Homo sapiens: one gene and its partner. The protein of the gene in region 1 purifies or fractionates together with the protein of each later gene. This does not show direct contact. Each region holds a gene or a part of one and is shown in the gene's direction. Other genes may lie near its edges.

Region 1 (3,749 bases):
ACTGTACTCCAGCCTGGGCGACAGAGCAAGACCTTCTCTCTAAAAAAAAGAAAAAAAATTGCTTCGTCAAATCTGCCCACATTCATAGATATAGGCTGAGTGGGACGATGGCTTGAGCCCAGGAAGGAGTTGGATGGAGGCTGTAGTGAGCTGTGATTGCACCACTGTACTCCAGCCTGAGTGACAGACCAAGACCCCGTCTCAAAAACAAAACAAAAAACCCCAAGGGAGCTACTCTTGGCTGGGCGATCAGGGAGGGCCCTCCTGAGGAAGGGGCACTTAAGCTGAGATCGGGAAGATGAAGTAGAAGAGTTCCAGCTGCAGGGAGCCACATAGGCAAAGGCCTGGCGGTGGGAAAGGCTTGGTGCACTGGGCGCAGGGAAGAAAGCCCAGCGAGGCTGAGTGGAGGGAGTGAGGGCCTGGCCACCTCAGCCTCGTGAGCCCAACCCGCCATGCTCTTCCAGAGGCTTCTGCTTGAGAATGGGAAAGAAGTTTCCAGCAAATAAGGCCCCCGTTCCCAGGAGGAGGTCCCAGCTCGCCCTGCCCCCTCCTGTCTTCTCAAGTCCCCTGGGCCACAGAAGCCTTGAGGGACCCACCCTCACCCCTTCTGTGGGCCCCAGGGCTGGGGTGTCCTCTCGCCGATGGCCTTCTTGGGGTGGATGAGTGGAGATTACTCCAATAACTGGAGCCTCTGTCTTCCCAGGTAGACAGGCCTGGCCTCAAAACCCTCTCTCCATCAGGAGCAGGCTGTGGGACTTCAGCTCTTTGGAGCCTCAGGTTCCTCATCTGTAAAATGGGAAGATTCTTTCTTCCGGAGTCATCTTAATAAAATGTGTTGGGCTGTTTATACAGGGCAGGCATTTGGTGGGGGCCAAACCACCGGGTAATTATGCTAAAAATAACTATGATTATAGGTGGCAGAGGGGTGCAAATGCCTCACAGCCTCATCCCGCAGAGGAATGAGAGCTTCGTCAGGGCCGGGACCTTGTCTGGCTCGTGGCTGCTCCCACGACGACTGGCGTGGCAGGCACGTGGTCAGTGTTCCGCCATCGACTGACTGGGCGGATGAATGATACATAAATGAATTCGCGAACGACTGATGCCCAGCTTCCTCCCGAAGCAAGGTCATTCACCTCAGCGGTCGCGCCTCTCCCCTGCCCCTGCCCCGGATTCCCCGCCGCTCTCAGCTCTCGAGGAGTATGCAGCACTCTTCCGTGCAGCGTGCCTCAGTTTCCTCCGCTGTAAGCAGGCGGGACCAAGGCAGCCTGCCGGGGTCAGGATGAGGCTGGCAGAGGAAGGGCGCCTGTAGTGGGGCCCCGTACCCACGGGCGCCCAATCCGCGCTCGCCAGGGCCGAGCCCGCCCGCCGCGCGCAGCCCCCGCCCCACCGCCTGCCGGCCCCGAGCACACGTGACTCCGCCCCGGCCCGCCCCGCCCCGCCGTCCCAGCGCGGGCTCCCATTGGCCTTTCTGGGAGGCCCCGTCCCCAGCCGGGGAGGAGCCGGGCCCCGCCCGCCGCAGCGCGGGGCTCCTGCGTCCCGAGTGCGCGGCGGCCGGACCGGGCGGGCGGAGCCGGGCCCGCGGGGCTGCTGCGGGGCGATCGGGCCGGGCCGCTGCCGCGCCATGGTGAGCCGGGCGGGGCAGGCCGCGCGCTCGGGCCGGGCGGGGGCGCCGGGGCCCGGGGGCGGGAAGGGGGAGGCCAGGACGAGGAGGGGCGCGCGCGGCGGCGGGGCCGGGCCGGGGTCTGCGGGCGGGGGAGGGGCGGCCCGGCGGGCGCGGCTCGGGGGAGGGTCCGTTCCAGGGGCCGCGCCCGCGGGCTGGGGTTCTTTGTCAGCGGCGCTGCGGCGAGATCCGGACAAAGGAGGCGGCGGGGGGCGGAGGCCGCTTTGTGGGGATCGCGGGGCGCTCGCCCCCGCCCGTGCAGCCCCCGCCCGTCCTCAGCTACGCTCCCGCCTTCCCCCGGCATTTCGGGGTTCTTCAAAATTCTGGGAGCTCCGGGGAGGGCTCCGGGGATAGGGGTCCAGGTGACGTCCGGCGCCCGTCTCGCGGGTAGGGAAACTGAGGCCGGGCCGCAGCGTTCGGCGCCCGGTTCCGTGGGCAGCGGCTGCGCGGCGTGGGCATGCCTAGCTCCCCTGGTCCCCGTCCCACACCCCGCCTCCGTCGGGCCGATTCGAGCTACCTCCCCAGCTGCCGTCCCCTCTCCAGCTGTCGCCCCCTGGGCCGAGCCCCCTCCTCCCTGGAGCCTCGCTTTGCTCCTCCGTGGAGTGGGGGAGACGCCGGCGCCGCCGGGCAGGGTGGAACGGGAGGGTGCGCGGAGCGCGCCTGGCACCGCGCCTGCCACGCCGCCCGCGCTCAGCACTCGGGAGCCGCCGGGGCGCTGTCACCCCTAAGTCCCCAGCACCCAGCCCAGGTCGCCCAGCCCGCCCCAGCGAGGGCCACACTGGGGTTCACCTGTCCGCGGCCCCTCAGGCACGCGGGAGAGGAGGTAGGGAGAATGTGGCATTTTAGAGTCAGGGTCGAAATGCGGGATTTTGGATGCAGGTTGCCTGGGTTTGAATCCCTGCGCGTCTACTTTTGAGCTGTGTGACCTTGGGCAATGGACTTAACTTCTCTGAGCCACCAATTTCTGTATCTGCCAAGAGGGAACAGTAATAGCTCAACTGCCCTGTTGTCTTGAGGCAGAAAGGAGACATCTGCGTGAGCTGTTTATCTCAGTGTCTGGCACATATAATTGCCACCAACTTTCTCCGGCATCTACAAGCAAAGTTGTTTGGCCAAACAGGCCAACCCTGGGGCAGCCTGTGAAAATGACCAGCGGGTGATTCACAGGGTGGGGGCATGAGCCTCTGGCCTGGCCCGAGGAAGACCCCGACTGACCTTGGGGCAGTCCCGGTTCAGAGCTCTGCGGGCTCCCGCTTCCTCTTTTGCCACTGGGGAACCTAGGGGATTCTGGAGCGAGTTTCCTCTTCTGAGGATGGGGGTGTCATGGGTGGGGGTGGAGGATGAGATAACACTGGCCAGAGAGCTGGGCACAGCCCCATCAGTGTCAGTCCCACTGGCATCCGGCCGTTCTTGGTCCTGGCTTCTGGAGGGCTGGGGCCTTGTGTGATGCGTCCTTGTGTCCCACTGGCTGCTGGAGGCCCAGGGCAGAACGGACGTCCCGCCTCGTCCTGGCTGTGTCCAGCAGTGCCCTCTTCTCCCTACAACCCTGTTTTCCCAGTCAGAACCTGGGGCAGGAAACGTTTCTGGTTTGTGACCCGGGGTTCGCTGAAGAGTTTGTTGGCACCCTTGGCAGGTGGCTTTATGGGGGGAGGCAGTACTGAAAGCCCCGTAGGGATGGCTGGTCCCCTGTAAGCAGGGCAGCCCTCCTGGCGTCTGTCAAGGAGCCTCAGGAGGTGGCGGCTGCAAGGCGGGGGTGTTTTGCTGGTGGTGAGCCCGGCAATGCTCATGATGTGCCCGGTTGAGTTAGGAGGAGGCAGCGTGTCCCTGGGGAAGGGGTGTTTGTGGCACTGGGCCTGGGCCAGGCTCTGTGCCCTTCTGGCCCTGGGGGTGGGCTTGGGGATCCCTCGGGCTCAGTGTTCTCCCTTTGTCCCTGCTGTAGCACACAGGAAGGTGTGGCTGGTGACATGCAAACCTGGTGACCTCATGTCCCTTTTGTTTTCACTTTTCTTACCACTTCTCATCCTCCCCACGACCTGGTAGATGAGGTCAGGGACTCGTATCCGCTTTGCGCATTGAGAAACTGAGGCCA
Region 2 (3,649 bases), on another chromosome or scaffold:
AGGTCAGGAGATTGAGACCATCCTGGCTAACACGGTGAAACCCCATCTTTACTAAAAAATACAAAAAAGTAGCTGGGCATGGTGGCAGGTACCTGTAGTCCCAGCTACTCGGGAGGCTGAGGCAGGCGAATGGCATGAACCCAGGAGGCAGAGCTTGCAGTGAGCTGAAATCATGCCACTGTGCTCCAGCCTGGGCAACAGAGTGAGACTCCGTCTCAAAAAAAAAAAAAAAAAAAAACCGTGGGCGAGAGCCAGGCACGGTGGCTCACACCTATAATCCCAGCACTTTGGGAGGCTGAGGTGGGAGGATCACTTGAGCCTAGGAGTTCAAGGCCAGTCTGGGCAACATAGTGAGACCTCTTCTCTATAAAACATTTTTTAAGAATTAGCTGGGTGTGGTGGTGCGTGCCTATAGTCCTAGCTACTCGGGAGGCTGAGGCAGGAGATCACATGCCCAGGAGGTCAAGGCTGCAGTGAGACATGATCATGCCTCTTTTTAACTGTACTCCATCCTGGCGGGTAACAGAGCAAGACCCTGTCTCAAAGGAAAAAAAACAGGAGAAAGATGTTGTGAGAGATGGTGTATGGTAGGAGAGCCTCCATAGAGCTCCTTTGACCACATGACAGTGGAGTTATTATTCCTGTACGCTGTCATTACAGAGCGGTGGATCTGAAATGCATTACTTCTGGCAGTATGTTTTTTTCTTTGGAGTTGTTGGAATGCACTTGCGTCTGATTATGCTTTGTGTCCGCAGGCTCGTTTAGAAGTGCACCGGTTTGGTATCACGGGTTATGGAAAAGGAAAGGAGAGAATCCTGGAACAGGAACGTGCCATTATGCTGGGCGCTAAGGTGAGGGGCTGCTGCTACCTTTCATCACTAGACAACATGCAAAAAAAGCAAGAGCAAGGAAAGCTAAGAGCAAGTCAGGGCAAGGGACACTGGAACATTTTTGCAGAATAAAATATGATGGTTTGTTTCTTTGTTCTTTCATTACAGCCTCCTAAAAAGAGTTATGTGAATTACAAGGTTTTACAGGAGCAAATTAAAGAAAAAAAGGCAGCAAAGGAAGAAGAAAAGAGACTGGTAGGTGTGATGGTCTGTCCTTTATTCAACTAGAATGGGAAGATGGATGCTCTTTGCCACAGTGGAATGCCGGAAGCCGCTGCTTGGAGAGCAATGAAGGCACCAGAGTTAAAGGATCCCATGCTCCCCATTTCTTCGAGTTAGCTCTGTTTAGTAATACCAGCCAAGTAATCTGGCGTACTTACATGCAAGATTTGCTTTGAAATAGCAAACTCCTTGTCTTAGTCCGTTTTTGTTGCTGTAAAGGAATGCCTGATGCTGCGTAATTTATAAAGAAAGGAGGCTGATTTGGAGCATGGTTCTGCAGACTGCATGGAAAGCATAGCACTGGCATCTGCTCGGCCTCCGGTGAGCATCTGAAGCTGCTTCCGCTCATGAGGGAAGGCAGAGGGAAGCCCATGTGTACAGAGATCACATGGCAAGAGCGAGACATGAAAGAGCGAAGCAGCAGTGGGGAGAGGTGCCAGGCTCTTTTTAACAAACAGCTCTCATGGGAAGTGGGAAGTAACAGAGGGAGAACTCACTCATTACCATGAGGACAGCACCAAGCCATTCATGAGGGATCCATTGCCATGACCCAAACACCTCCCACTAGGTCCCGTCTCTAATGTTGGGATCAAATTTCAACCTGAGGTTTGGAGGGTCAGCTATCCAAACTATAGCAATCCTGTTCCAATAATGCAGGCTACTTTGATCTTTCTTCTATACTTAGGTTTTTTTTTTTTTTTTTTTTTTTTTTTGCATTTTACGTTGTATAACCTTGTATACAACACAAGGGCCTATGAAAAACCACAAGGGGAATAGATGTTACACTTTCTACCTTTCACCTAAAATGGAAGATTTGAGCTTTCAGTGTAAGACTATTAGTCTTACCTGGAATAGCCATTCACATTCTTTTGTCTTTTTCTTTCTAACTGAGACAGGATCTTGCTGTGTTGCCCAGGCTGGTCTTGAACTCCTGGGATCAAGTGATCCTCCCCCCTTGGCTTCCTGGAGTGCTAGGACTATAGGCATGAGCCACCACGCCAGGCCCAGCCTTTCACATTCTTGAAAGGGTTTTAGGGTAAAACTTTGAGACTGTTATGTTTAATATGCCCACTTGAAAGAAATGTTAAAAATGGTATCTCAATGACTTTTGGTCACAAACCTCTTGCCTTTTGTTTGAATCCCATTATCCACTACTAATATGTATATGATCTTAAATTCTGAAATCAGGCCCAAGAAACAGATATTTTCAAGAAAAAGAAGAGGAAAGGACAGGAGGACAGGTGAGTGATTTTATCAGGTCCTGGGGTTGAACAATCTGGATGAACCTACTGATGAGTTCTGACAAGGACGCCTTGAATGTATGTGGTGTTGCTAGCCCATTAGAGCGCTTCACTGTCTCTCATTTATCCTTGTCAAAGTAGGATTTAGTAAACTGCCCAAGATCAAACAACTGCCTGAGAACTGAATTAGGAAGTTTCTCCAATCTTCCACTTTTCACCGACACTCTAAGTGACTAGTGGAAAAGCTGCAGTTTACATTTCCAAGAAAAGACTTCTAAGAGTGCTGCTACAGCAGCGTAGTCTGGGTCTGTATAGCCTGCTCTTTGACATACCACGTAAGATAGAGCACCGTAATTATGAATAAGGGATGTTGACTTTGTTGCTTTATACTTGTTTGTTAGCTTTTGTTCAAATGCCTTTTTCTCTGTCTTTGAGTTACTGTTTCAGAATGGACTCTTTTTGTCTTAGCCTGTTTTCTTGGGCTCCTAGTGCACTTGTACATGCTGTAAAATGGTCATTTGTTCTGGCCACCGATCTGTATCTGTTGAATGCCTCTTTGTGCCAGGCATGTGGGTGTCTTAGGTATTGGTGTACAGCTGTAATCACACTAAAGATATCCCTGCCCTTGAGGAGCTTCATTGTAGGGAGAGAAACACCCCAAAACATACAAATGGATAAGTAAGATGATATCAGGTACTGGCAAGTATTGTAGAGAGGCTGAAAGAGAGCATTGTGAAGGAAAACCACAGGGAGAAGGTGAGCTGGGAAATTAGTCTGAGGAGGTGACATCGGAGCTGAGAACTGAACAAAGAAGAGGGGCAGCCTGGAAAGAGCTGGTAGCAGAACATTCCTTGCAGAAGAAACCAGTGCAAGGGCCCTGAGGCAGGAAGGCAGTAGCATGTTTCAGGGACCACAGGAAGGCGTATGGGGTGGGGGGTGTGCATGGCAGGCGACCAGGAGTTTGCAGGCCAGACTGCAGTGGCCTGGTTGGTGGTACTGTGATGCTTGTTGGTAAGCTTGACTATTTATAGTACCTTTCTCTTACTTTAAATGTAGGAAATCCAAAAAGAAGTCCGCTCCCAGTATTTTGTCAAATGGACGGATTGGACAGGTTGGAAAATTCAAAAATGGAACACTGATTCTGAGCCCAGTTGATATCAAGAAAATAAATTCTTCCAGAGTGGCCAAATGAAGTACTTTGTCAAATAAAACGAGGATGGGAACAACTGAGTCAACTGCAGCGGCCCTGGACCCTGTGCGACTCTAGATAGATCGTTCTTAACACGCATTTCACAG

Evidence for each region. The genes of interacting proteins can lie anywhere in the genome.
Region 2: the proteins of SNN (region 1) and FSAF1 purify together in Homo sapiens (affinity purification with mass spectrometry; one large-scale study listed by BioGRID and IntAct). This does not show direct contact.

Annotation. Positions count from the first base shown.
Region 1 is NC_000016.10:11,666,917-11,670,665, forward strand, and holds the start of SNN (stannin), read left to right. Parts: upstream 1-1,538; 5' UTR 1,539-1,624; intron 1,625-3,749. UniProt on the Homo sapiens protein: Plays a role in the toxic effects of organotins. Plays a role in endosomal maturation.
Region 2 is NC_000001.11:231,224,175-231,227,823, reverse strand, and holds part of FSAF1 (40S small subunit processome assembly factor 1), read left to right. Parts: intron 1-755; coding exon 756-851; intron 852-998; coding exon 999-1,085; intron 1,086-2,300; coding exon 2,301-2,353; intron 2,354-3,409; coding exon 3,410-3,545; 3' UTR 3,546-3,649.